4 linked regions of the Homo sapiens genome follow. The protein of the gene in region 1 interacts with the protein of each later gene in a pairwise test. Each region holds a gene or a part of one and is shown in the gene's direction. Other genes may lie near its edges. The genes, in order: C3orf52, TMPRSS2, NCR3LG1 and MRGPRX3.

Region 1 (7,424 bases):
AACTATTGGGTACTAGGCTTAGTACCTGGGTGACAAAATAATCTGTACAACAAACCGCCATGACACGAGTTTACCTATAGAAGAAACATGCACATGTATTCTCCTGAGCCTAAAATAAAACTTTGTTAAAAAAATAAGTAAATATCTTTACTGTAGTGCAAAGCCAGAGGGAAGATTCCTGGCCTCCAGCTGCATAAATGCTGGAGGACACTGTTCTTTTTACTCCCTTAGGTCCTACATTTAATTCAACCTATAGTATTCATTGAGGGTCTGTGATGTGCTAGACAGCATGCCAAGTGCCAGGGCCACATTGTCTGTGCCTTCAGGGGTCTCACAGTCCAAGTACAGGAAGTGACTAAAAAGATCGTTTTATAATAGTGTGGTATGTTCTAGTGTGTTGTACAGTGGCAAAGGAGGGGCATCTGAGCTACCTCAGGTGAAGATGAAGGCATGAAAGGCCTGTTAAGTGAAGTGATGCTCAGGATGAGTTTTGAAATGAGGTAGGAATGTTCTAAATAAAAAAGCATGGGACATTAAAGGATCTGCAAAGTAGTGTACTGTGGCCTTCCCATGCTTTGTGGTGACAGCTGGCAGAGATAAGGCTAAAAAGGAAGGCAGGCGTCAGGTCATGAAGGCTTTCCCACTCTTCAATAAGGCACCAAAATATTTTAATCAGCAGATTGACACAGTTAGATTTTTCCTTTTAGCCTTTCTGTGTTTTGGTGGAGAAAGCCAGGAGGAAGAGATCAGTTAGAAGGTGTTACAATAGTCCAGGTGAGAAATGAGGGAGACTTGAACTAGGGCAGTGTCGGGAAAATAAGGAAGATTTGCGTGAGATTTAAGAGGTATTCTCACTCAATAAGAGTCCATGACTGATTGGGTGGTGGTGAGGAGAGCATGACTCCAAGCTCCAGTTGAGTGATTGGGCAGATGGATGGCGGTGTCAGTCATGGGATGAGAAACCCAGGAGAATGAACCCTCTGTGGAAGATGGAAGCTCTGCAGCCAGACTAGGACCGTTGGGTGGGGCATCCTGATCATCCTGTCAAAGACAAGGTGGTTCACAGCCAGACCCAGAAATTTTGATAAGAAAATCTAGGCAAGAGCAGGCTGCCCTCCATTAAATTCTTCTCTGCCATTGCTAGGTTGAATGGAGTGAGTGCTGTTTATCTAACTTCCATTCGATTTGATTCCTACAAAAGCTCCTGAAGAGGCGATTCCATCCAGGTCACATCAGAATCAGTTTCTGGGTACCCACGCATGAGATTTCATTGCTTCTTTTATCACAGGAGTTGGTATCCTGTGATGATTACTCCAGATTTCTCTTTCTCCTTCTCTTCATTTATATCTTTAAATTTTTTTTAGATTGTTTAAATTTATTTATTTATTTTTATTTTTTATTTCCGTAGGTTTTGGGGGACCAGGTGGTATTTGGTTACATGAATAAGTTCTTTGGTGGTGATTTCTGAGATTTTGGTGCACCCATTACCCGAGCAGTGTACACTGTGCCCAATTTGTAGTCTTTTATCCCTCACCCCCACCACCTTTTCCATCAAGTCCTTGAAGTCTCTTCATTTATGTCTTATCTTCACCTCCTTTTCTCCTTTCCTTCCACCTGCTTCCTGGGGCAAGTTGCTGAGTGAGACGCTTCTTGCTACTTTCCTCTTGGCTGCTTTTTTAATGGAGAGGTTTTTGCATTTGCTGAGCAGAAATAAGATGAGTCAGCATCCACATGTGTCACCTGTTGCATAGTAGACTGTCTATTTCAAAGGTAAATGAATGTTCATTTTTCATTTTACAACCATATATCTTGCACAGAGTCAGATATGAGGAAATTCTGCGGGTATTTTGAGCTCATCACTAGGTAGTGGCAAAAGAACAGGGACTGACATTGATGCCTGTGGTGGGTCCACAGATTTCTTTGAGCCAGTTTCTTCGCTGATAAATGGAAACCAGTGCACTTTCTCTGTGTATCTCAGGTGCAAATGAGATTACATAAAAATAACTTGAAAAACATTTTAAAAGAATTATCTTATTTACAAATGATCAAAGTAAGGCATAGTGAGGTGACAGATTCCTGCCCTTCATTCGTCAACCAAATATGCTCAGGAACAAAAATTAGCACCTAAAGGTATTGCTGTCTTATTGTCAGGTCAATAACTCCTTTCTTCCATTAGGTCAAGTTTCAGAAGTTTCTGGATATAAAAGGTAAATGGAAGTGGGTATTTGTGGGGGAAAAATTATTTTTTTCTCTATACCCACATTCAATGCAGAACACTTCTTTGGCCGTGTGTGTGTGTGTGTGTGTGTGTGTGTGTGTTTTCCACACCAACCAATTATCTGCCACCAGCTGGGTGTCTTGCAATCCAGTTCAATTCTGACATGATCTGCCTGGAGTTAGTGCAGACCCCATAGTTTAAGGGTTCAGCCCCACAAAACTTCCCTCATTTAAGATGCCAGTTACGGGAGGCTGAGGCAGGCGAATGGTGTGAACCCGGCAGGCAGAGCTTGCAGTGAGCCGAGACCGTGCCACTGCACTCCAGCCTGGGCAACAGAGCGAGACTTAGTCTCCAAAAAAAAAAAAAAAAAAAGATGCCAGTTCAGTTACAAGTCTAGGTTGTCACTTGTGCTTCTGACCAACCAGCTGCAAATTGGAGGTCTCCAAAACCCCCACCTTGGGTTTGGTCATTTGCTAGAATGGCTCACAGAGCTCAGGGAAGCATCACATTTATGGGCACACTGTAGAAAATAGAGGATATCAAAAGCCAGATAAAAAGGTACATAGGGCGGACACGTGGGACAGAATGTGGGCATCCATGTCCTTTCAGGTGTGCCACTCTCCCTTGTAAATGTGTTCAGCCACCTGGGAGCTCTCCAGACTCTGTCTTTTAGGGATTTTTATGGAGATTTCCTCACATAGGCATGGTGGATTATTAGCTTGCTTTCCAGCCTCTCTCCCCTCTGGAGGATGGGGGTGGAGGTGGGGCCAAAAGCTTCAGATTTCTTCTTCTTCTTTTTTTTTTCTCCAGACAGTTTTCACTATATTGCCTAGGCTGATATCAAGCTCCTGGCCTCAAGCGATTCTCCCTGCTCAGTCTCCCGAGTAGCTGGGACTACACGCATGCACCATCCCACTCCACCACACTGGCTGAAAGTTCCAAGCTTCTAGCTGCGGCTTGGTCTTTCTGATGATCAGCCCCCATCCAGCAGCCCGCCAAGAGTTGCCTCATCAGAAATAAAGACACTCCTATAACCCAGGAAACTGCAAGAGATTTAGGAGCAGGTCTGTGTCAGGAGCTGGAGTAAAGACCAAATGTTAGAGTAAAAGATGTACCCGGCGCCCCTGTCACTCAGGAAGTAACAAGGGTTTTAGGAATTCTGTGCCAGGAACTGGGGCAGAGACTAAACAGTATACATATTGTTATTATATCACAGTATTGGAACTTTATGCCCTTTCCCTTGACTTTTCTAAACACAGGCCCTGCCATGTGTCACTGCCACAGTGTTTTCCTCTCAGGGTTGGGGCCATTACTCTGCTTAAGCCAGCCTGTGTGACTACCACACCCTGTGCATGGGTTAGGAGTTAATGATGGCACCTGCCTTATTCTGGAAGCTGGTCTCTAATTAGCCACTGCATCAGACTCAGCTAATCAATTCGCTGAGCTCCTTGCTCAGTTTGCACCAAGCCTCATAGACATTGTGTGGGAGACACAAGACTAAGGGTTGAGGAACCACCCTATTTCACTTCTTTGGGCCCAAAGTGGACAGTGTGACTAACAGCTCCCCAAATGTAAATATGTCCTAAGTACAGCAGAGGAGCATGATCAAAAAGAATCTTCGAGTGAACACTAAAAATGATTTAGTCGACCACTCCATATGTTACCTTAAAATTTTAACTTAAAAATTTGCTGAAAGCCTGTTATGTGCAAAACACTGTGCTGGGCCCTAAAGATTAATAAAGGAAAGAAGGGAAGGAGGAAGCAGAGAAGACTGGAAGGAAGGATAAATATCACCTTTGCCATAGGAAGCTCAATCCAAAAGGAAGAGAAAGACATGAGTGCTTGACATTAGTGCTTGAAAAGATTCTCCTCTGCAGCATCCTCATCCTCCTCTCCATCACAGCATCCCCGTGAAAGCTGCTTTCCTAGTTCCCGAGTTTTCTAAATGACTGTCAGCCTATCGGCAACATCCTGTGCATTGGGGCTTAAGAGCTGTACAATGACTCAGTCATTTTCTCCGAAAGTTTTTGTCACTTTAAGCTTCTTTCCTCCTTGATATTCAGGAGACACTTTCCTTCACTGTATATATATCAATTTCTTCTTCACTGGGTAGTGTGGTCAGATGGGAAGAAGCTGGTTTTTAGTGTTCATAACATGTAGGATTGAATTTTGGCTTCTCCTTTTACTAGCACAGTGACCTGGGACAGGTTTTCTTCATCTCATGGAATGGAGTGCTGTTTAATTTTCCAGTAAAAAGGGGAGATATATTAATGCCTGTTTTGCCAGGTTTTTATAAAGATCACAACAGTAGTGACAAGATTAGAAGAGCAGAAATAGCAGGCACTCTCATCTTTTGTTCTCTTTGAGATATGGGTTGTACATGTTGAGTTAAATGGGAGTGTATTGTGGAAGTGCAGCGTCCTTGACATTCCATTTGGAGTTGAGGGGAAACAGGGTAAGCTCCCCATAGGGCACTGCTGTTTTTTGTATGTTCGACTGCTTGTTATTGAATAAAGTAATAGGTCATTAAGCCATAATGGCTGTAGCTGGGGATGGCACATGTTCCTAGTACTACTAGTTTAGGATTCAGATATCTGAAACACAACTACTCAATGCCTGGGAAAAGATACTTGTAACATAATATCAACAACTAGTATCCAGAATATAAAACTAACCACTTCAGATAGATAAGAAAAAGACAGATAAGCCAAGAGAAGGAAAGGAAATGAGTGAGAAATTCAGAGATGAAAAGTCCCAAAGAGTTAATAAACATGAAAAGATGTTCAACCTCACTAGTAAGCGAGGCAGTACAAATTAAAACAATGTGAAGCACTATTTTATACTCCTCGGAGTGGTAAAAATTTAAGTTTGGTAACACTAAGTGCTGGTAAGGATGTGGGAAATGGATATTTATACATTGCTGGGAGGGGTGGGAAAGGGAGAACAATTTTGTGAAGTTGGAGATGCACCTACCCTTAAACCCAACAATTCCTTTTCTTGGCATATGCCCATTGGAAACTCCCGCATGTCCAAGAAGAGATGCATGGAGACATTAAGGATGATTGCTTCAGCATAAGTTGTGATGGGGAAAATTGAGAATAGTGCATGTGATCATCATCAGAGGAATGGATAGGCTGGTATACTCATTTAAAGGAATCTGTGCAGGAGTTAGGTGAATGCCTTTCATTGAGATTTACTTTATGGGTAAATCTTAAATGTAATTTTGAGTGAAAAAAGGCAAGTTTTAGAAGATTATGTAGAATATGGTGCCTTTTATTTGAATAAAAACACAAATTATATTTTGTTATGATTACATAAATAAGTAGTAATTTGTAAAAATATGCAAGGAAAGGATGCATGCCAGCTTCAGAATGATGGTTAGTATTAAGAAAGAGAGAGAGGAGGAACTGAATAGTATGTAGGAGTCACTTTAGCTTTATTTTGTTTCTTAAATTAAAGGGCTGAACCCAATATAGCAAATATGAAGACATGAAAGCTAGGTAGTGGAAACACAGGTGTCATTATTTTTTATGATGCTTGCAATATTTCATGCATAAAATAAAGCCTCCATATTTTTGCAGTTCCCCTCTTTGTCTCTTTGTCCAGGGGATGTGCTAGACCCATGGCTTAGCATGGCTGTTTGTCTTTACACTGAAGCTCTGGAGAAGGGAGAAAGAAGCCCTGGGCTAAGCAATGTCCCAGGTGCTAAGTGGTCTGTGCTGCTGCTGTCCAGCAGCCATTTTGGGGTCTTCTCTTCTCTCCTTCCTATGGTCTGTGAGGCCTGTGTGGGCTCCAGCTGCTGATATTCTCACCACTAAGGCCACAGGGTGCCAGTGCAACTTCTGAGAGAAACTGAGTCATTTGGTCCTTATAAATGGAGTTCTTTTGAAGTAGCATTAACTTGAGTTTTGATTTATGGTGGGCTCAATTCTTGATCCAGAGCTTCCAGATAACGTTGATTCCAGGCTGGAGTGGAATCTCCTCTGCCTTAGAAGCAGTTTTGCTTTGTCAGGTGATGTGTAATATGATCTGTCGGTAATGTGTGTGGTTTAATTTGCTTCTGTTTGTTTAGCTCACAGATGTGTACAGTACATCGCCCTCTCTGGGTCGTTATTTTACTTCAGTTGAAATAGTGGACTTCAGGTAAGAGTGTGGAACATTACATTTTGCTCTCTTTCTCTGGAAAGAGATCCCCCCACCCCACCCTTCGTCATTTACCTAGCAGGGATTCCCAGAGCCTCAGAGCATGAAGGGAACCTGTAATAGAATCACAGAATGTCAGTGCTGGGAAGGTCTTTTACACCAACAGGCTCAACTCCCTTATTTTACAAATGAGAAAAAGGAAGCCCAGATTAATGGTATAATTCAACCAGGGTCACACAGAAGAGGGGAAAAGCCAGTCCCAGGTAAACCATTTCTGTTTAACAATGAATGCTCAAATAAGCTAAGGGTAGAAGTAGAAATAGATCTCAGGTCGTGCTGTGATGCGAGTGATACATGTATAGGCATTTGCTTTTGAGGAGCACAAGTAATACAGGAGTACATTCTCCTTGTTTAGTATTAAAGATGTAAAGAGGGGCCGGGCGTGGTAGCTCACGCCTGTAATCCCAGCACTTTGCGAGGCCAAGGCGGGCAGATCACTTGAGGTCAGGAGTTCAAGACTAGCCTGGCCAACGTGGTGAAACCCTGTCTCAACTAAAAATACAAAAATTAGCCAGGTGTGTTGGTGGGTGCCTCTAATCCCAGCTACTCAGGAGGCTGAGGCAGGAGAATCTCTTGAATTCGGGAGGGGAGGTTGCAGTGAGCCGAGATTGCGCCACTGCACTCCAGCCTGAGTGACAGAGTGAGACTCTGTCAAAAAAATAAAAATAAATAAAAATAAAAAAAAGAAGACATAAAGAGGTATGCACAGGAAAAGTCTCCCTTCTGCCTCCTTTCTTCTCCACTGCCACCACCAATAACTAATGCCATTCCCTTCCATGGAGGTAATAGCTGTCAAGAGTTGAGTGTAATTACTTCTGTTCATGTATCTACCATAGGCACCACAAATACTACACACACATAGGATATACACACCCATATGTATTTTTTATTTTTTAAATTTCCTCCTCATCTTTAATGTTCTTGAGATGTAGGCATCAGGGTGTATGTGTGTAGAGTCCATTTATTATCCTTTTACATCATTGGGACTATTGGAGATGACTTA
Region 2 (7,424 bases), on another chromosome or scaffold:
GGGGTAATTCTGTGAGGCTGCTTTATTATTTTTTTTCTAGGAGGAGGTTGGAATGAGGCTAGGCTAAAGCTGTGATTGGTAAAGAAACGTCCGTCGCTCAAGTTAGCCAGGACAGGAGGAGACATCAGATCGTGATTTTGTGGTTGTGAGCACAAGGTTCCTGTTCTGTCTGTTCAGACATCATTTCGGAGGAGGCTCCTTGTGTCTTGCCCCATCTCAGGCATGGAGGGGCCTAGTCCGATATTGACGCTCAGTGAAATAATTCAGGTTCCGCAGAGCACACGGCCCAGCTATCAGGGCGGGCCAGCTCTGCATGCCAGGGGCCGCGTCTTCCCTTCTCAGCATAGCCTGGGAAATTCACTGCAGGACAAAATGCATCAGTTACTTCCTCTTCATCCATAACCTGGGATGTTTGACTCCCAAATGAGTAACTCTTACGTTTCTTCTAATCCTAGGGAAACTATTGGTTATATTGCTTTCAACACTACAAATTTAAAGCAGTTATAGGAGCCCAGAGGTTTCCAAATGGCTTCCTTAAAAATTAGAAGATGATTTTAAATTCCAAGAGGAAAAACAAAACTAGCATTATTGTATACTTACCCTCACAACCGTCCTAGGAGCTGGTACAATTTTAAGAGAGGTTAAGTAACTTGCCCAAGGTCACACTGTGGGGATGTGAGCCGCGTACCTTGGCTCAGTGTCTGGTCTTTGCCACTGTCCCTATATGGATTTACTTACCTTATTGGAGTTGTAACTAGCAGACCCTTCTATGTCTCAGAAGACAGGAGAGGGAACATCGGAAGAAATGACTGATTTCTAAGCATGTGAGAGGCAGGTGACTCCGCACTATCGTGACCAGAATTTCCCCTGTTCTTTTTGCAGTGATGCCTGTTCTTCAAAAGCAGTGGTTTCTTTACGCTGTATAGGTAAGTTCATCTGGAGTCCCCCTTTTGATACTTCTAACTAGGAAAAGCTCTCTACTTTCAGAACAGTACTCCCTGTGTCTCTGGGGGCGTGGGAGGGAAGAAGGTGGGGTCACGGGTTGGAATGTGCCCAGCGGCGTCTCGCTCTTTCCAAGGAGCTCCTGGTTTAGATTTCCATGGCCTGTAGACACCTTCAGCCTTGGGTCCAAGGGACACCCCCTGAGATCAGGCACGCTCAAGAAGCTGACAAAGCCCTACACTTTATGCCACCCATGAGCTGGAGGCCCGGCAGGTCTCTTTCTCCAGAAAGCAAAGGGGGGTGGCGTTAGTGAGCCCTGGCAGCCACCTAACGTGGACTTGGAGCATCTGCGGGGCTGTGGTCCAGCACCACCGTGTGGCCACCAGGTGCTCATCAGCCAGTGGGACCCGGGAGGAGGGACAAGACCAGAGAACAACAGTGCTCTTGCCTCTTCTCTCCTGAATTTTGGACGGTGGCTTAGACTTGGGTGTCCCCATCTCTGTGTTTAGAGTGCTTACAGTTTCCAAACTGTTTGCAAATGTGGAAGCCACCGTCCCTCTCCTCTGGGATGGCCCAGTGCTGTCGTGGGGCCGTGGTCCTGAGCTCAGCTTTTCATTTGAAGAGGTGGAAGGAGCTGACACCGTCCCATCCCGGCAGGGCTGGCTCAGGTCTTCTTTAGGTCCTGAGTGGGGGTCCAGCACAGCCCCAAGGGTGCGTGGCACCCGCCCTGCCCTCTGCCCATGCACTCATCTCCTGGTGGAGAAGACACTCACACACAGGAAGCAGGGAAGGCAGCAGACCTCACTCACCCCTCACCCCCTCACTCACCCCCTACTCACCCCCTCAACCTCTCATTCACCACCCACCCCCTCGCCCCCTCACTCACCCCCTCACTCCCTCAACCCTCACTCACCTCCTCACTCCCTCAACCCTCACTCACCTCCTCACCTCCTCACTCTCCCCCTCATCCCTCCCTCACCCCACCCCGTCACCTCCTCACTCACCTCCTCACCCCCTCACTCACCCTTCACCCCCTCACTCACCACCTCACCTCCTCACTCACCCCCTACTCAACCCCTCATTCACCCCTCACCCCCTCACTCACCCCTGCACCCCCTCACTCACCCCTTCATCCACTCACCCACCTGCTCACCTCCTCACTCAACCCCTCACCCCCTCACTAATCCCTCACTCCCTCACCCCCTCACGCCCTCACTCACACCTTCACCTCCTCACTCACCCCCTCACCCCCTCAACCCCTTACTTACCCCCTCACTCATCCCTTCACCCCTCACTCACCCCCTCTCTCACCCATTCACCCCCTCACTCATGCCTTCACCCCCTCACTCACCTCCTCACTCACACCTTCACCCCTCAGTCACCCCCTCACTCACCCCTTCACCCCCTCAATCATGCCTTCACTCCCTCACTCACCCCTTCACCCTCTGAATTACTCCCTCATCCCCTCACTCACCCCCTCACTCACCCCTTCACCCCCTCACCCACCACCTCACCCACCCCTCACCCACCCCCTCACCTCCTTACCCCTCACCCCCCTCACTCACCCCTCACCCCCTCACTCACCACCTCACCCACCCCTCACCCACCCCCTCACTCACTCCCTCATCCCCTCACTCACCCCCTCACCCCCTCACTCACCCCCTCACCCACCCCTCACCCACCCCCTCACCCCCTCACTCACCCCTTCACCCCCTCACTCACCCCCTCACTCACCCCTTCACCCCCTCACTCACCACCTCACCCACCCCTCACCCACCCCCTCACTCACTCCCTCACCCCCTCACTCACCCCCTCACCCCCTCACTCACCCCCTCATCTCCTCACTCACCCCCTCACCTCCTCACTCACCCGCTCACCTCCTCACTCACCCCCTCGCCCCCTCACTCACCCCTCACCCCCTCACCCCCTCACTCACCCCTCACCCCCTCGCCCCCTCACTCACCCCCTCGCCCCCTCACTCACCCCTCACCCCCTCACCCCCTCACTCATCCCCTCACCTCCTCACTCACCCCCTCACCTCCTCACTCACCCCCTCACCTCCTCACTCACCCCCTCACCTCCTCACCCACCCCCTCACTCACTCCCTCACCCCCTCACCCCCTCACTCACCCCCTCACCTCCTCACTCACCCCCTCACCTCCTCACCCACCCCCTCACTCACTCCCTCACCCCCTCACCCCCTCACTCACCCCCTCACCTCCTCACTCACCCCCTCACCTCCTCACTCACCCCCTCACCTCCTCACTCATGCCCTCACCCCCTCACTCACCCTTTCACCTCCTTGCTCATCCCCTCACTTACCCCCTCACTTCGTCAATCACCCCCCCACCTCGTCAATCACCCCCTCACCTTTTCACTCACCCCCTCACTCACCCCCTTACTTCCTCACTTACCTCCTCACCCCCCACTCACCCCCTCACCCCCCACTCACCCCCTCACCCCACACTCACCCCCTCACCCCCCACTCACCCCCTCACCCCTCTCACCTCCTCACTCACCCCCTCACCTCCTCACTTATCCCCTCACCCCCTCAATTACCCCCTCACCCCCTCAATTACTCCCTCATCCTTTCAATTACCCACTCACCCCCTCACCTCCTCACTCCTCACTCACTCCCTCACTCACCCCTTCACCTTCTCACTCACCTCCTCGTCTCCTCACCCCCTCACTCACTTCCAGCCCTGCCCCTCCCATCTTCCTTTTCTTTGTGTGAGAATCTGGGGTCCCTGAGTGGTGTCAGTCCCTCCAAGACTCAAGGAGTCCCCAGGGCCTTGTTATCCAGAACACCCCCACCTGGGTCCCGGGAGACCCCATGGGATCACAGGAGTGTTCAGGGAAGTGGTGCTTCCTGGGTCTGGGTGGGCTGGAGGGGCATCCTCCCTTCCCCAAGAGGAGACCCCCAGGAGCCCCCTAAGTCCATCCCCAGCAGTGGTGCCCCTGCCCTGTCCTTGCAGCCTGGGAGACCCTTGGGAGGGGCGGGCGCTGGGTGGCTGGGCGGCTTCTGCTGGTCTCACCCCACTGGCCTCCTGTTTGTCATCCTCAGCCTGCGGGGTCAACTTGAACTCAAGCCGCCAGAGCAGGATTGTGGGCGGCGAGAGCGCGCTCCCGGGGGCCTGGCCCTGGCAGGTCAGCCTGCACGTCCAGAACGTCCACGTGTGCGGAGGCTCCATCATCACCCCCGAGTGGATCGTGACAGCCGCCCACTGCGTGGAAAAGTATGCCAGGGGCGGCGCGGGCCGGGTGGGGGCTCAGGGCTGGCCTACAGCCACCCTGTGACCTTGAGCAGGTCTCAACCCTTGCAGCCCCGGCATCCTTGTGTTTAAATGGGGAGAGTATTGCACCTGCTTCCTAGGGCTGTGAGACATCAAGTGCGCTCATGCCAGGCAGTGCATGGCTGTATGCACTGAGTGTCCCCTGCACGCAGGGCACAGGGTGCAGGTGGAACATTCTCCACGATGTCGCCGTGACCAGCGTTCCTTCCAGCCACTGTCCTCTGAGCTCTGTCCTGCCCTTGAGCAAAGCCCCTGCCCCCTGAGGTATCCTGTCTCCGGGACGCTAGTCCCAGGAGAGGGCACACTCAGACAGGCTTCAGGCTGCCCTGCTGGAAGGTCCCTGGGGTTAAGCGTTCTTGGCCACAGCATTGCTCATGCAGAGGGTTAGGTAGGGGTGAGGCTAGCCGTGACAGTATTAGCATTTATGGACGCTACCACCCCCTCCCCTTTTCCTTAAACACATAGTGCTTTTGGTCACATGCTGCTTTGGAGGAGGCCTCACTTGGCGGATGTATTTTTCTGCCTTAGAGAGAGGCTGAACTGGGTTTGACTGTTGGCCCAGCCCTCTCTTGCTGCGTGCCCTTAGACGATTCACTCAACGTCTCTGATCCATGGCATGTACAACTATAAGATGGGCATGCCCTTCTCCTCTCGGGCTGTTATGAAGGTCAAGGAAGCAAGGGCTGTTACCCAAGGGTGCTCCCTTCTCTCCCCCTCTTCACACCCCCAGGTGCTCTGGGCCCTCTAGGAACTGGGTTTCTCTCAAGGGCTGTTACCCAAGGGTGCTCCCTTCTCTCCCCCTCTTCACACCACTGGGTGCTCTGGGCCCACTAGGAGCTGGGATTCTCTTAAGAGGGAAACTCTTGGATAAAGGAAATGGTTTGATTGATATCGGACAAGTCTGTTCATTAGTATCCATTTATTAAGCACCTACCATGTGCCAGGAAATGCTTTGGCGTACAAAGGAAAATAAGGGCCAGTCCTGCTAGAAATGGCCTTGAAACCCCAGGGAGGGATGTCGGCCCATTGTGGGTGCTGCAGATTCCTTGAAGGTGATGCAAGAGCCAGAAAGAAGGATGATGTGGGGGGCTGAGGCAGGGAGTCGGGGTTGGGGGAGTGTGGGGGAGAAGGGGAGACCGAGCACCTCTTCCACTATCTCCCTGTGTGGTTTTTGGTGAACCATCCTGCCTCTGGGTGTCTTGCCTCCAGCTTCTGACGTTGGAAGTTCATCCACTGAGAGCTCTGTGTTTATGGCTCTGAGATACTGAGTCCTTCTTCTCTCCCAGACCTCTTAACAATCCATGGCATTGGACGGCATTTGCGGGGATTTTGAGACAATCTTTCATGTTCTATGGAGCCGGATACCAAGTAGAAAAAGTGATTTCTCATCCAAATTATGACTCCAAGACCAAGAACAATGACATTGCGCTGATGAAGCTGCAGAAGCCTCTGACTTTCAACGGTACGTGTGGCTCAGGCTTGGCAAGCAGGTTGGCAGAATCTTAAAGAGATGTTGATTGGAAATGACACTTGTGCTATGCCAAATGGAAGGGAGGCATTTGCGTTGAGCGAGGGTAGCGTGCAGCGGGTGGCCAATGGGAGAGGCTCACAGAGGCTAAGAGCACCTGCCGCATTTTGGGGGAGGCAGCAGCCACCACATCTGTTCTGTACTGTACTGAGTGGTGGTGATTCAAGCCAGGCATGGAAAAGGCTAGAACAGGGCTTTCCCACTGCAGCACCCTTGACATCTGGGTGGTTCTCTGTTGTAGGGCTCTCTTGTGCCTTGTAGGATGTTTAACAGCGTCCCCAGCCTCTACCCACTGGAGGCCAGTAGCTACCAAGCTGTGACAACCAGTGTTGCCTGCTGACATTGCCAAACATCCGCTTTGAGGCAAAGTCACTTCCAGTTGAGAACTACTGGCCTAAAATGTGTAAAGATCCTTGATTTTTAAAGATACATTCTAAAACCAAGTTGCTTAATTCAGGACAAACATGCTTTCTCTTAGCCTCTTATTCGGTCCCACTCTGGTCCATCCAAGGGTCTGGAATGTTCTAGCCCCATGTGGATACAGAAGAAGCAAAACCTCAGCCCTCCCTACAGCATGTCTGTATTCACATTGGGAAATGGTTCACATATAGAAGAGCGAATGCCTGAGCAATGGCGTGGTGCCTCTGGGGCGAAAGCTGACTCCATTGACTCCATCGGCTTTTTGGCTGTTGCCTCCTGTGTGTCTTTCCCGTCTTGATCACCTGGAGATATGTAATTTTGGAAGCAGAGCTAGCAAATAATTCCTCTTATAAGCAGAGCTAGCAAATAATTCTACTTATAAGTAGCATAACGTCTTGCCTGCCAGAAGGAGAGGTCTGGCAGGGGGAGAAAGTGAGAATGTGGGACTTGTTGGGATGCAGGGTCCTCTGGGCAGGGTGGCCAGGGTGCCAGGCCCAGCAGCCTGCATGTGGGAAGGCCAGGTGGAGACATAGGTGATACCCGCCTGGCTCACTGTGTTTTCTCTTCTTGAAACAGACCTAGTGAAACCAGTGTGTCTGCCCAACCCAGGCATGATGCTGCAGCCAGAACAGCTCTGCTGGATTTCCGGGTGGGGGGCCACCGAGGAGAAAGGTGAGGCTGCTCCTGGGCACACAGGACTGCAGGGCCCACAGATGGAGCATTGGGTTCGGAAGTGGGAGGTCCAGGTTTTAATCCCAGTTCTACTACTCAATGACTGGATGACTTTGGTTGATTCCCCCAGTCCTTGTGCCTCAGTTTCTCCATCTGCTAAGTGGGAGAAATCCTGCCCAGCCTACCTAATACACTGTGTTCTTATCGTGATCACACAGAGCAGCATGTGGAATGGCTTTTGAAGTATCTGGGCCATACGAGTTTAGAGGTGCAGGATCTCCTGTGTTGCACTCATTGTGAGTTTAGAGCTGCCCTGGAGATCCCACCAAGGCCTGCGTGGCTGAGTGACAGGGGGCTTGGTGAGGACGGGCATCCTGGACCCATGGTGGCCACATCTAAGCCTGTCCTCTGCCCTGATAACCACAGAGAGAGGCTCTCTCCACCCACTTCCTTTGCAATCTGCATTTCTCTCTGACAGTCTTTCAAATGAAGGGAGCCTGGCTGCTTCATTTTTATGGAGGGTTGGAAGTGCTTAGTGGCAGGCACAAAGGTTCATTTTACATATTGTT
Region 3 (7,476 bases), on another chromosome or scaffold:
CCCTAAGCAGTTTTTCATCTTGAGTTTTCCTTAGTGATTTTGGGGACCCAAAATATTTTCCTTTCACAAATTCTAGTATACCTTGCTTTCACTCTTTCTGTCCAATTCTTTGTTTGACTGAAGCGTTTCAGAATTAAGCTGCAAACATTGTGATCCCTTACCCTAAATATGTGAGCATCTCTTATGAACAAATATTTTTTTAATCATAACCATCATATAATTATCAAATTTGGGAAATTTAACATTGTTACAATACTATTAATCTAACACATAGTCCGTATTCAAATTTCACCAACTGTCTCAATACTGTCCTTTATAATAATTTTTTCATGATCCAGGATTTGTGTGTTGGATTTTGTTGTAAGGTCTCTTTAATTTCCTTTGATCTGGAATAGCTCCTCAGTTGTATTTTGTCTTTCATGACATTTACATTTTTTGAGAGTACAGGTCATTTGTTTTATAGAATGGCTCTCAATCTGCATTTGTCTAGACTGGTCTTTCTCACAGTGTGGTCTGTGACTGGTGCTGGTCTATGCCTGGCTGTTACCTAATGGTGAGAAGGCCAACCAACATTACTCATGCTGTTGGAAACTTTTATAGCAATTCAAAAATAATTTTATGTCTTTTGAATCTAAGAATAAAAATTGAGGGCTTGGATTTTTATGTCTTTTTATTTCATTTCTCTAGTAATTCATTTTTATTTCACAAAATGACAGTTCTTCGTGGGTTGGACACTTATTTTTTATTTTTACTTTTATTTTTTAGAATTAAGAAAAAATAATAGAGACAGGATCTTGCTATGTTGGCCAGTTGGTCTTGAACTGTTGCCCTCAAGCAGTCCTCCTGCCTCTGCCTCCCAAAGTGGGTGAGCCACCATGCCTGGCCAGGTTGGACACTTTTAAAGAGTCCTTCAGCACAGCTACTTGGAACAACAATGGTCTAGAATGAGGTGTTTTTTGTTTGTTTTTGTGTTTTTTTTTTTTTTTTTTTTTTTTTTTTTTTTGGAGACAGAGTCTCACTCTGTCACCCAGGCTGGAGTGCAGTGGTGCAATCATGGCTCACTGCAGCCATGACCTCCTGGCCTTGAGCCATCCTCCCTCCCACCTCAGCCTCTCAAATAGCTGGGAATATAGGTGACACCACCACACCCAGCTAATATCTTGATTTTTTTTGTGGAGATGGGGCCTCACTATGTTGCCTAAGCTGATTCCAAACTCCTGAGCTCAAGTGATCCTCCTGTCTTGGCTTCCCAAAGTGCTGGGATTACAGGCATAAGCCACTACACCTGGCCTAGACAGATTTTTTGAAGCTAAGGACTGTGCTTTAGCCATCGCTGAATTCGTCACTCCTAGATTGTGCCTGGCAGAGTTCAATAAATTGTTGCTGAGGGGCAACTTGAAATGTCCCATTCCTTTAATAGAAAAGCTTTCCTTTCCTTTTTTTTTTTGAGACAGAGTCTTACACTTGTCACTCAGGCTGGAGTGCAACGGCATTGATCTCGGCTCACTGCAACCTCCGCTTCCCGGGTTCAAGTGATTCTCCTGCTTCAGCCTCCCGAGTAGCTGGGATTACAGGCGTCTGCCACCACACCTGGCTAAGTTTTGTATTTTTAGTAGAGACAGGGTTTCACCATGTTGGCCAGGCTGGTCTCGAACTCCTGACCTCAGGTGATCCACCCGCCTCGGCCTCCCAAAGTGCTGGGATTACAGGTGTGAGCCACCGCGCCCAGCAGAAAGCTTTTCTTATACTGAGCCAAAATCTCTCTCCAACTTGCTTTTGCCTTCAAGAACATCACCTAACATGTGTACTCACATACACAGGTGTTAGCTTTTCAGAGACTTACAAGACTGGTACCATTTCTTAAACCCCCAGGCTACTCCAAACAAAATGGGCTCAGCTCCTTTACTCATTTGTAGTGATTAGGATTAGGTTCTGCTGAAAATGAGAACATTTTAAATAAGAGTAGCTTACTGACTTTATTTCTTATGTTCCACAGGTCCAGAGGTGTCCTTCTAAAGCTGGTAGAGGTTTCACGAGTCATCAGGGACCCAGAACCCTTCTCTTTTGCTGTCCCTTTGTCCTAGTGCATGGTTTCCACACTGTGGTGCAAGATGTCTCCTCAAGCTCTAGGCATTACATCTGCTATCCTGCTGTCAGAAAGAAGGAAGGGGAAAAGAAGATCATTTCCTTCTCTTTAAGGACATTTCCCAGAAGTCACACAGAACATTTCCATTTATATTACTTTGGCCAGAACTTGGTCATATGGCCACATTTAGTTCCAGAATGATTAGGAAATGCAGTCTTTTATTGATCCCTGTGCCCAGGAAAATATTGGAGGCCTTTTTCAAGGAAAAAGGGGAAAACAGATATTGGTTGACAAATAGCAGTCTCTGCCATACTGTCCCTGGATACATGTCTTTGAGTGAATGTCCCTTATTTACCATTCTGATTACTTGTTGGATATTTTCAATATGTGTTACAATATGGTTCCAAAATTGTATGTGATATTCCAACAGCAAGTTGGATGCAATGTGTCATAAAAATGACCTCAGTGTCAACCAGCATTTGAATACCGTGTCTCAATGCTGTGCACCAATAAAGAACACAGAAAGTCAGAGTTTTCCATAAATAATTCCTGAGAATATATGCTTATTTTGTTTGAGAAGCATCGTGAGGTATCTGCTGTGTGCTTTAGGGTTGAATGGAAAGTTGGCAAAAGTATTAAAAGACATGTTCAGGCCGGGTGTGGTGGCTCACGCCTGTGATCCCAGCACTTTGGGAGGCCGAGGTGGGCGGATCACTTGAGGTCAGGAGTTCAAGACCAGCCTGGCCAACATGGTGAAACTCTGTCTCTACTAAAAATACAAAAATTAGCTGGGTGTGGTGGCAGGCACCTGCAATCCCAGCTACTTGGGAGGATGAAGCTGAGGCACAATAATCTCTTGAACCTGGGAGGCAGAGGTTGCAGTGAGCTGAGATCACGCCACTGCACTCCAGCCTGGGCAACAGAACGAGACTCTGTCTCACCAAAAAAAAAAAAAAAAAAAAAAAAAAAAAAAAGATGTTCAAATAGACATGATATTGGTAAAAACGAAAACACAGGTAATGACTTTTCATTCTAATGAAATATAAATAGAGAAACCTGCCGGTTTTACCCTTTAGAGTAAAAAGGGTACAAAAAAATTACCAAAACAGTAAAAATTACCAAAAGAGTAATTTGATAATTTCTACAGGGTGATGTGTATGTGTCACAACTTTGTGAATCACTATTCTGGGCATGTATAAGAAGTCGTCATATACCTCCATTGGGAATGTTATTTAATGATGTCACTAATACCAGACAAGGATGTCTCCTCAGGTAAGGCTCCTTGGAGGAGGCAGAGGTTGAGAAGAGGTGTAATTTAGGTTTTAAAAATTCAATAGCTGGACTTAACCTTGCATATCTCTACCTGTTATAACGGTGGTCCGGAAGGCTGCGATCTGAAGGCCCCTCAGCTAGTTGCTGCCACTGTGGGCACTCTGCGCATCTTTCACTTCTGAGCTCTTTCTGTATGCACTCTGTTCTGCAGATAAGTGAGAATGTGACTATTTGCTTAGTCAGTGACAGTGTCTCTAACCCTGGAAAGGAAGCTTTTACTCTCTCAGTTTTAGAGACATGTGAACAGGCTGGGGATATGAGGTCACTTACCCACTGTCTTATAATCAGCAGATGGCATGGTTGGCATTGGAGTTTAGGTCTGTCTGTGCTTTTCTGTACATTACATCCTTTTTAATGATGCGAAGGAAAAATGCAGTAGGGTCAATGAGACAAATGGAATGCAGGTTGCTGGGGAAAGAATGCAGGTTCTGCGTTATAAATGCACACACATTTACTGTGCCACTTGGGTTCTGAACTTTGCGGTTAAATTGATTTAAAAACTGGTGTAGAGGTGGTAAAACTTAATCACCGAATGAGAATATTTGGGTTTGCTTCAGGAGGTCGCAAGCCACTTCTTGATTAGTAGAAATGGGAAATTAAGGGCCACCTTCAGGCGTTTAACTGAATTGTCCTGGGGATTTAATTTGCCTTTCGACTTAATGCTAAATTTTTGTTGTTTTTGGTTTTTAAAGTAATGTAAGTTTATCGCGCCAACGGTAAGATGTCGCTCTGGACGCGTGCACCTGCTCTCGCAATCACCGACTGCGGTCAGCATCTTCCTTAGAGCAGCGCCCCGGGCCACTTGGATCCCGGTCTCAATTTACTAAGCGAACCCAGAGGATGCCCCGAGTCCTGGACCGCAGAGCCGCTCGCGAGAGGCACCGGGGCTGTAACCGCGCAACCTCGTGCCGCGGGCGGAGGCGAGGGAGGATTCCCCGGCCGGTGCCCGCCCCCGGGCTAAAGTGCGGCGCGGGTGGGGCTGGTCACGCGCCTGGCTTCCTGCAGTGCGAACCTGGGAAATCCAGGCGACTTCGCAGTTGCCGAAGGGATCTGAAGAAGTGGGATGTGCAAAAGCGCCGGCTGGAAATCCCGGCTGTGTCTCCGTCAACTCTTTACGCAACAGAGGTCTCCCCCTGCCCTTGGTTTCTACCGGGCCGCCTGCTCCCACTCGGCGAAAAAAATTACACAACAGCAGCCGCGGCGATGACGTGGAGGGCTGCCGCCTCCACGTGCGCGGCGCTCCTGATTCTGCTGTGGGCGCTGACGACCGAAGGTAGGGGGCGGCTGGGGTGGGCTGGGGCGGGGGCTCCTGGCGCCAGAGGGTCCTCGCGGGTCGGCTCCCTAGCATCCCGCCAGGGGACCTCAACTTCCTGGGGGCTGAGAGCTCTATTTTCTTTTCTATTTCTTCTCCTTTTTTTTTTTTTTTTTTTTTGAGACGGAGTCTCGCTCTGTCTCCCAGGCTGGAGTGAAGTGGCGCGATCTCGGCTCACTGCAAGCTCCGCCTCCCAGGTTCACGCCATTCTCCTGCCTCAGACTCCCGAGTAGCTGGGACCACAGGCGCCCGCCACCATGCCCGGCTAATTTTTTGTACTTTTAGTAGAGACGGGGTTTCACAGTGTTAGCCAAGATGGTCTCCTTGACCTAGTGATCCAGCCGCCTCGGCCTCCCAAAGTGCGGGGATTACAGGCGTGAGCCCCCGCGCCCGGCCTGGGGGCTCTATTTTCAAGCGTCCCTCCTTTGTGAGAAGCGGAGTCCCCGATGCAACAGGTTTACATTGAAGGCCTGCCCTGTGCAGGGTCGACACCTGTGAGAGCGGAAACGGTGCTTCCTTGGATGTCGCGCGTTTGGTGCCTCGGTATTTGGCGCCTCTCTCGCATCATCCGAGGGGCCGGAGGAGAGAAGAAAATCAGGGAATCGGTAAATTGGAAAAATCATTCATCCGCATATCAGTGGGTCCTCCTGGCTTTGCTAAGTTAGGTCTTTACTGAGAGAGGGAGGGGAGTGTTTTGATCTTGTGGTGACCTTCAAACGTTCTCTTGCTTTTTTGGGAACTCGTATGGGCGTGTTCTGCGTTAACTTAAACAGGAGACTAAAAGGCTGAAACGCGTATGTAGAGATATTTAAACTCATTTCTAACTAGAAGAATGGCAATTAAACAACAAGATGCTGCTTGACCCTTACTAGGCTGGCCAAAATACGCTCCTGGGTGCCGGGTGGTGGAGGTGGAATGTAGGAATCCCGGAGGCGCGCTCTGGGCGCCCCGAGTCACTGCAGGTGGAGGAGAGCCGCGTGTGGACCTCACCGTGGAGACCTTGGCGGCAGCTTCACACCACGCCCTTGCTGCTTGCCGAGCAGCGTGAACGGATGTTGAAGGCGTAGAGCCAAGTAAACAGTGGACATACAATGCAATACCATTTCCACAGTTTGAGAAACAGAAGATACAGCCTTAAAGAGAACAAAAATTACATGTTAAACACCTTAGAATGGCTGCCCGATGGGAGAGGGAAGTGGAAATAAAAACGAGTGAATAGTATTTCTATACATTTGCAATAAGCAATGTGAAAATAAGACAGTTCCGAGTGAAGTGTGGGCGGTGAAGTGGAAAGCCAAAATTGCGCTTGTCTCCGCGCTGCGGACTTGAAACGCCTGTCACTGCGGTCTGGAAACGCCTGTCGCTGCGGTCTGGAAACGCCTCCGCGCTCTATCAGTCTGGGTCTCCTCGAGCTCGAAGTGGCGCCAGTGGGCTGCCGCCGCGCCCACCCGGTCCCATGCCCGTCCCGCGCCCCCTCCCGGGCCCGGCGCCCCCTCCTCAGGGGCCTTGGGTCCCCGCCACTTTCGTCCGGTCTCGGTCCCCGCGGATGCTGGTGGTGGTGGAGAAGGGCCGCGAGTTCTCAGGGAAGCGGAGAGGGAGGAACGCCGTTTGGCTGTGCGGCGGCGCCCAGTGACGGCAGCAGCAGCAGCAGCTCCTGGAGGAAGCTAGTTCCGGCTCGTCCAGCCACGAGGAGCGCGGCGGCGGCTGCATGAGGGTCGGACCCCAGAACCAGGCGTTGGTGCTGGACTTTGGCACCGGAAGAGACTGTGAAATGGAAAACCGTTTCGGAAGCTTTCGCCTAACAAATCATTTCCGCCTACAAGAAATTCCTACACCTTAGGATGGAGCATCTGTTTGCCTGGCTGCTATTCTGCGTGGAAGCAAATTTAAAGTGGTACAAGAAAAAAAAAATCCAGTCATACAAAGGAATTCGTCAGATTTTAATGCAAGAGATTCTAGCCCGTCTTTGTATGAGAATGTCTTTAAAGGTTGTTGATATAGAAAATGTTTTAAAGAACGTTAGGTTTTATTTCAGAAATGAAGTTGAAAAGAGCAATTTGTAAAGCTGTAGTTAACAGTCCTCCCTAGTTGGAGAGCTCTAGAACTGGAGGTTCTCTATGTAGGTTATACCACTAGTTGATTTGAAAAGATAAATGCATAAATGCTTTTCCTTGGAAACAAGACTGCAGAAAATTCCAAGGATCTAGTCCTTGAAAAAGGCGAATGCTGTTAAGCTGTTAAGGTACTACACTCTGTACCTTTAAATGAAAATACATGGAGGTCCTGGGTGAGCGCTTGGGCGCTCTGAAAATAGACGAGGTTTCCCAAATTTGCCTTCTAAATTTTGATTTGTTGATTTAAATCTTCTAAATTTATGTAGTCTGGCACTCAGGTTTGTATTCCTTTTAAGCACATGTTAGTGTTTTTGATATTTTCCCTTCTCCCTCCGACCCCCCAATTCTTCTTCTTTTTTTTTTTTTTTTTTTTTTTTTTTTGGTAGTCACTTTTCGTTTTTAAGAGTGACAATACAACTAGGTGGCCTGGCTGTTTCATATCCTTGGTTTCTCCATTTCTTGGTTGGCCACCAGGGGGAAGCATACTGTTTTTTTGGTTACAGTTGACCCTATCTTCATTTTGTAGGTCAAGTCTGTTTTTGCTTTGATACATAGAACAGAAAGCTTGTCACCGCGTTTCCCTAATGTATTATTTTAAAAAATAGACTTGCACAAATCTTTGAGTAAGTTGG
Region 4 (7,297 bases), on another chromosome or scaffold:
AGCAATGGCGGGCACCCCTCCCCTAGCCTCACTGCCACCTTGCAGTTTGATCTCAGACTACTGTGCTAGCAATGAGCGAGGCTCCATGGGCATAGGACCCTCCGAGCCAGGCACAGGATACAATCTCCTGGTGTGCCGTTTGCTAAGACCGTTGGGAAAGCGCAGTATTAGGATGGGAGTGACCCGATTTTCCAGGTGCCGTCTGTCACTCCTTTTCTTGGCTAGGAAAGGGAATTCCCTGACCCCTTGCACTTCCCGGGTGAGGTGATGTCTCGCCCTGCTTCGGCTCACACTTGGTGCGCTGCACCCACTGTCCTGCACCCACTGTCCGACAATCCCCAGTGAGATAAACCCAGTACCTCACTTGGAAATGCAGAAATCATTCGTCAGATTCTGTGTTGCTCACGCTGGGAGCTGTAGACTGGAGCTGTTCCTATTTGGCCATCTTGGCTCCACCCCCCTCCTGAATTATTATTCAATCAACAATGAAATCAAGATAGAAATTTAAAAATTCTATAAACTGAATGATAATAGTGACACAACCTATCAAAACCTCTGAAATACAGCAAAAGTGGTGCTAAGAGGAAAGTTCATTGTATTAAATGCATACATCAAAATGTCTGAAAGAGCACAAATAGACAATCTGAAGTCACATCTCAAGGAACTAGAGAAGCAAGAACAAACTAAACCCAACCCAGCAGAAGAAAATAAATAAAAACGATCAGAGCAGAACTAATTGAAACTGAAGCAAACAAACAAAAGATAAATGAAACAAAAAGCTGGTTCTTTGAAAACTTAAACAAAATTGATACACCATTAGCAAGGTTAACCAAGAAAAGAACAGAGAAGATTCAAATAAGCTCAATTAGGAATGAAACAAGAGATATTACAACCAATGCTATAGAAATACAAAAGATCTTTCAAGACTATTGTGATCACCTTTACATGCACAAACCAGAAAACCTGGAGGTTATGCATAAATTCCTGGAAACACACAAACCTCCTAGATTAAACTAGGGAGAAATAGAAAGTCTGAACAGACCAATAAAAAGGAATGAGATTGAAATAAAATTTTTTTTTAAATTGCCAACAAAAAGTACAAGACCAGATGTATTCACAGCTGAATTCTATCAGATATTCAAAGAAAAATTGGTATCAATCCTACTGAAGCTATTCCATAAAGAAAGAGGGAATCCTGCCTAAAGCATTGTATGAAGCCAATGTCACTTTAATACCAAAACCAGGAAAGGATATACAAAAAAGAAAACTATAGACCAGTACCACTGATGAATATACATGCAGAAATCCCCAACAAAATACTAGCTAACCCAATCCAACAGCATATCAAGAAGATAATCCACCATTGTCAAGTGGGTTTCATACCAGGGGTGCAGGATAGGTTAACATACACAAGTCAATAAATGTGATACATCACATAAACAGAATTAAAAACAAAAATCACATGATCATCTCAATAGATGCTGAAAAAGCATTTGACAAAATCTAACATTTCTTTATGATTAAAACCTTCAGCAAAATCGACATAGAAAGGACATACCTTAATGTAATAAAAGCCATATATGACGGACCCACAGCAAACATTATACTGAATGGGGAAAAGTTGAAAACATTGTCCCTGAGAACTGGAACAAGACAAGGATGCTACTTTCACCACTTCTATTCAACATAGTAGTGGAAGTTTTAGCCAGAGCAATCAGACAAGAGAAAGAAATCAAGGGCACCCAAATCAATAAAGAGGAAGTCAAACTGTCCCTGTTCACTGATGATATGATTGTATACCTAGAAAACCCTAAAGACTCATCCAGAAAGCTCCTAGAACTGATACATAAATTCAGTAAAGTTTCAGGATACAAACTAAATGTACACAAATCAGTAGCACTGCTATACACCAACAGTGACCAAGCTGAGAATCAAATCAAGAACTCAAACACTTTTACAATAGCTGTAAAAAAATACTTAAGAATATTCTTACCCAAGGAGGTGAAGGACCTCTACAAGGAAAACTACAAAACACAGCTGACATCATAGATGACACAAACAAGTGGAAACACATCCCATGCTCATGGATGGGTAGAATCAATATTGTGAAAATGACCATATTGCCAAAAGCAATCTACAAGTTCAATGCAATTCCCACCAAAATATCATCATCATTCTTCACAGAACTAGAAAAAAACAATTCTAAAATTCATATGGAACAACAACCAAAAAAAAAAAAAAAACCCGCATAGCCAAAGCAAGACTTAGCAAAAAGAACAAATCTGGAGGCATCACATTACCCATCTTCAAACTATACTACAAGGCTATAATCACCAAAACATCATGGCACTGACATAAAACTAGGCACATAGACCAATGGAAAAGAAGAGAGAATCCAGAAATAAAGCCAAATAATTATAGCCAACTGATTTTTGACAAAGCAAACAAAAACATAAAGTGGGGAAAAGACATTCTAGTTAACAAATGGTGCTGAGATTATTGGCAAGCCACATGTGGAAGAATGAAACTGGATCCTTGTCTCTCACTTAATACAAAAATTGATACAAGATGGATCAAAGACTTAAATCTGAGACCTAAAACCATAAAAATTCTAGAAGATAACATCAGAAAAATGCTTCTAGACATTCACTTAGGCAAAGACTTCATGGCCAAGAACCCAAAAGTAAATGCAACAAAAACAAAAATAAATAGATAGGACTTAATTAAACTAAAAAGCTTTTGCGCAGCAAAAACAATCATTAGCAGAGCAAACAGACAACCCACCGAGTGAGAGAAAATCTTCACAAACTAAGCATCTGACCAAGGACTAATATCCGGAATCCACAAGGAACTCAAACAAATCAGCAAGAAGAAAGCAAACAATCCCATGAAAGAGTGGGCTAAGGACATGAATAGACAATTCTCAAAAGAAGATATACAAATGGCCAACAAACAGGAAAAAATGCTTAACATCACTAATGATTAGGGAAATGTAAATCAACACTGTAATGCGATACCACCTTACTCCTGCAAGAATGGTCATAATTTAAAAATCTAAAAATAATAGATGTTGGTGGGTCTGTGGTGATAAAGGAACACTTTTACACTGCTGGTGGGAATGTAAACTTGCGCAACCACTATGGAAAACAGTGTGGAAATTTCTTAAGGAACTAAAAGTAGATCGACCATTTGATCCAGCAATCCCATTAAATATGTATAAATATATATATTTATATACCATGGAATACAACTCAGCCATAAAAAAGAATAAAATGATGACATTCACAGCAATCTAGATGGAATTGGAGACCCTTATTCTAAGTGGGGTAACTCAGGAATGGAAAACCAAACATCATATGTTCTCACTTACAAGTGGGGACTAAGCTGTGAGGACACGAAGGCATAGAATGATATAATGAACTCTGGGGACTTGAGGGGAAGGATGGAAGAGAGGCGAGGGATAAAAGACTACACATTGGGTACAGTGTACACTGCTCAGGTGATGGGTGCACCAAAATCTCAGAAATTACCACTAAAGAACTTATCCATGGAAGCAAACACCACCTGTTCCCCAAAATCCCAATGAAATAAAAATAATAATAATAAATGATTTAATTTCACAGAATTTAAAAAAGTTCACTGTTCAGAGTTTATAATAATGAAGTAAGAATGAAAAGTGTAGCAAGTGGTAGCCTCTGGACAATGGGACTCTAGATTTTCACCTTGCATACACTTCTCTGGCATTTGGAAAGAAAGTATACACATGAATATATCACCACTATGATAAAGAAAACATCAAAAAATTGTGTCAGGCCATTGTCAGCCTTGAATGGTCCCATGATCTACTTTTTCATTTGGATATAAAGCCTCATAATGATAGTTCACATTGCTTAATGTGATGCCTAGGCCCATAATTGATTTTTAAAATCAGGACAGCAATTACTTACAGGAAGTTGAACAAGATGGGACGTGATAGGAGAGGCTTAAATGTACTGGATATGGGACAGAGGCCAAGAATCATCTCAGTTAGGATTTGTGTCTCAAATACCTCTGGCCTCTGATTTGCCCATAGTCCTCATACAGGAAATAACAAGACTGTCCAGCATCTTCGTAAGCCTGGATTGCTCACCAGCTTTCATTTCAGCTCCTGTAGGCATCTCCTGAATTAAGCAACACAGAAAAGTCCTCTGAAGTCACTGAATCCCATAAAGGCTCTCTACCTTTAGCACAAGGGAGGTCTTCACCACTGGACAAAGAAGGAACGATAAGGGTAAGTACCAAGAACTCTCTTCTTCCACAGTCAGTTATGATTTTTGCTGTAAGATCATGTCCTTATGCTTCCACCTTGGTGCTACATGCAGGGGGTCACGAGCTTGTTTCAGGAAAAGACAGGAGACATGAAGCTTCCTTTCAGAAACTGAGTGCTGTCAACCCAAACTGTGTGAGCTCTAAATGGTGTCCCCCCTTCTAATTTATCTCCCCATATCACCTCCTTCATTCCAATCATTCAATCTGCCCTCATGGAGAGACTGCTGCCTCTTACATTCATTTAACGAGCAAGGGGACATGCAGGCATTTCTTCCCAGAGTTGAACTGCTATAGAGCCAGTTTCTTTGTTTCACTTACTTTTCAAATTTATTCTTCTTTGCCTATCTGGAAAGGTCTAAGGAAGATATAGATGGCCCAATAATTAAGGAGTGTTTCATGAGGAAAGTATTTACAAAGATGCACAGAGTTAAGGGTCAGGATCCTAAGCAGCAATACATAGGGGAGCACTACTTCCTCCCCTAGGCTGAAACGGACAGGGAAGGAGCAGTTACCATTGTCACTATAGCCATAGCTGTAGCCATAAGGGTGGGAGAGCATGAGCAGGCAAGTGGAGAAGCCCTGCGTGGCCAACGCACAGCCACACAGGCTGATATAGTTTGGATCTGTGTTCCCACCAAAATCTCATGTTGATTGTAATTTCCAATGTTGGAGGAAGGGCCTTGTGGGAGATGATTATTAGATCACGGGGATGGTTTTGCATGAATGTTTTAACACCATCCCCCTTTGGTATTGTTGTTGTGATACTGACGAGTTCTCATGAAATCTAGTTGTTTAAAAGCGTGTAGCACCTCCTCCCTCTCTCTTACTCCTGCTCTCACCATGTGAGACGCCTCGCTCCCCCTTTGCCTTTCACCAGGATTGGAAGCTTCCTGAGGCCTCCCCAGAAGCAGAAGCTGCTATGCTTCTTGTACAGTCTGTAGAGCTATTAGCCAGTTAAACCCATTTCCTTCATAAATTTCCCAGTCTCAGGTATTTCTTTTTAGCAATTTGAGAATGAACTAATACACAGACAGAGAGCCAGGAGATGGAAATCCCAAGGTGCTTTCCTGCTGTCTTCCAGTCTCCTGCTGGTGTCTCCCAGTGTCTCAATTCCACCAGAAACCAGAAATAAAAAGAATCCCACTGATGTGGTACATAGAAGCCACTCTCTTGGGATGTCAAACAGGATAAAGAAGAATGGAAAGCAAATCCTCATGGTAAATGAGACTATCCCTCTCACCTTCTTGTATCCTCCTAATTCCTGGGGCTTTCTCTATCTGATTGATCCCTGTCTCATTTCAGCTCTATCAGACTACTTTAATGTTTGGCTTGTCTTTCTCTACTGTCACTTTTATGCAGAAATGTTTGCATTTGTTAAAAATGCATAGAAAATAAAATGTAATTTTAAAAAGAACATATGTATTTTGTTTAGAATATAAGTTTGGCTGATCTAATAAAGACATGAAGAAGAAATATCTTAAACAAGAAAGTATAGTTGTGCCTCTGGGTCACTAGGTTCTGAATCTACAGATTCAACAAACTACAGGAGGAAACTTTTCCAAAAATAAAGGTGTGGCGGAGTTGTGTATGTACTGAACAGGTACAAACTTGTATTTCTTTGTCATTATTTCTGAAAAACTACAATATAACAAGAACTTATATAGCATTTGCATTTTGTCAGTTATTCTAAATAACTTTAAATGATTTAATGTATCTGGGAGAAAGTGCATAGAGTATATACAAATACCACATATAAGGAAATTGAGCATCTGCAGATTTTGGTCTGTGCTGGGGTTCTGGAAAGAATCCCCTGTAAATACACAAAAATGACACTCTTCGAGATCTGAACTAGAAGCTCCAAAGCATCATACATCAGAATTCCAAAAATTGCTGCTCCCCAGTTCCTAGAGAGTTGCCCTCATCCTTGTGATCCTACATGGTTCCCAGCGACATTAGCATTCCAGTCTTATGGAAAAAGGACGAGGGGAAGGAGAGGCTTTGCTCCTTCTATTAATCCCATGAGCCAGGACTTGCTTCTGTCACTTTTGTGATTCTTCCACTTAACAGCACCTGCTCATGGGATGTCATCCAGCATCAAGGAAAACTGGGATGTGGGTCCTTGTGCTGCTTGTACATTCTCAGAAAGGTTATGTGACCAAAAAAGGAAATCTTGGGGCAACCAGCAGTCTCTTCAGCCCCTGACTGTCTCTGATTCTGTGCTCACATCAAGATTTTTCAGGAACTCCTCAGAAATAATAAATGGTGGGGCAGAGAACAGAACTGGAGTCTCGTGCAGGACTCCAGGGACCAGGGGCTGGTATTGGACCTGCTCTTCATGTTGTGAACCAGGAAAACCCTTTAATTCTCTAGGCCTTAGCTTCATCTTATGTTATATGAGGATAATACCATAGACAGTCTTTAAAGAACATCATAGCATGTTAAACAACATGCTAAATGTTGGTGATACCACAGTGAAAAAGACAGGCATGACTTACTCCTTACGGATCTTCGGGTTTCATGAGGAAGACAAACATATCATACCATACCTATAGATGGACAAACAGTTTAGTGCTCTGAGTGTGGATAACAGAGGTTCTCCTTTTCCTCCCATTTCCTTTTTGGGCCAATCAGAGCTGTGGCAGCTTGTCTCCCTAAGAGAGCTCATGATGGATGCACTCACTCCTGATGCTCCTCTATACTCCCAGAGGAGGATGCATCTTCTTTCCACCTGGAGAGCTCCTGCCCATGTGCATTCTTGGGATTCCAGAGCAAACGTGGCCTCTGATAGGCAAAAAAGAACTCCTGAATTTGTTCCTAAATGGCACGCACTCACCTCTATTTTTCCCTTATTTCATTTGCTTCTCATTCTCTATCTGGAGTTTGTTTAGGTTAATTTTTTTTTTCAGCCCACAATTTTGACTGTCAACTTGGATTTAACTTGAGAATCACTCCTCTACTTTACCCCCCTCTAACATGTATAATCGACACA

The links.
Region 2: the proteins of C3orf52 (region 1) and TMPRSS2 interact in binary tests that used the Homo sapiens proteins (3 or more experiments, as listed by UniProt).
Region 3: the proteins of C3orf52 (region 1) and NCR3LG1 interact in binary tests that used the Homo sapiens proteins (3 or more experiments, as listed by UniProt).
Region 4: the proteins of C3orf52 (region 1) and MRGPRX3 interact in binary tests that used the Homo sapiens proteins (3 or more experiments, as listed by UniProt).

Annotation. Positions count from the first base shown.
Region 1 is NC_000003.12:112,103,253-112,110,676, forward strand, and holds part of C3orf52 (TPA-induced transmembrane protein), read left to right. Parts: intron 1-6,290; coding exon 6,291-6,361; intron 6,362-7,424. UniProt on the Homo sapiens protein: Has a role in LIPH-mediated synthesis of 2-acyl lysophosphatidic acid (LPA). LPA is a bioactive lipid mediator involved in different biological processes, and necessary to promote hair formation and growth.
Region 2 is NC_000021.9:41,470,079-41,477,502, reverse strand, and holds part of TMPRSS2 (transmembrane protease serine 2), read left to right. Parts: intron 1-882; coding exon 883-926; intron 927-4,006; coding exon 4,007-4,178; intron 4,179-5,521; coding exon 5,522-5,697; intron 5,698-6,759; coding exon 6,760-6,855; intron 6,856-7,424. UniProt on the Homo sapiens protein: Plasma membrane-anchored serine protease that cleaves at arginine residues. Participates in proteolytic cascades of relevance for the normal physiologic function of the prostate.
Region 3 is NC_000011.10:17,347,349-17,354,824, forward strand, and holds the start of NCR3LG1 (natural cytotoxicity triggering receptor 3 ligand 1 precursor), read left to right. Parts: upstream 1-4,451; 5' UTR 4,452-4,621; coding exon 4,622-4,691; exon of another isoform or gene 4,692-5,335; intron 5,336-6,116; exon of another isoform or gene 6,117-6,624; intron 6,625-7,476. Other genes in the region: NUCB2 (nucleobindin-2), read left to right, coding at 1,997-2,016. UniProt on the Homo sapiens protein: Triggers NCR3-dependent natural killer cell activation.
Region 4 is NC_000011.10:18,128,470-18,135,766, forward strand, and holds the start of MRGPRX3 (mas-related G-protein coupled receptor member X3), read left to right. Parts: upstream 1-4,101; 5' UTR 4,102-4,270; intron 4,271-7,297. UniProt on the Homo sapiens protein: Orphan receptor. Probably involved in the function of nociceptive neurons. May regulate nociceptor function and/or development, including the sensation or modulation of pain. Potently activated by enkephalins.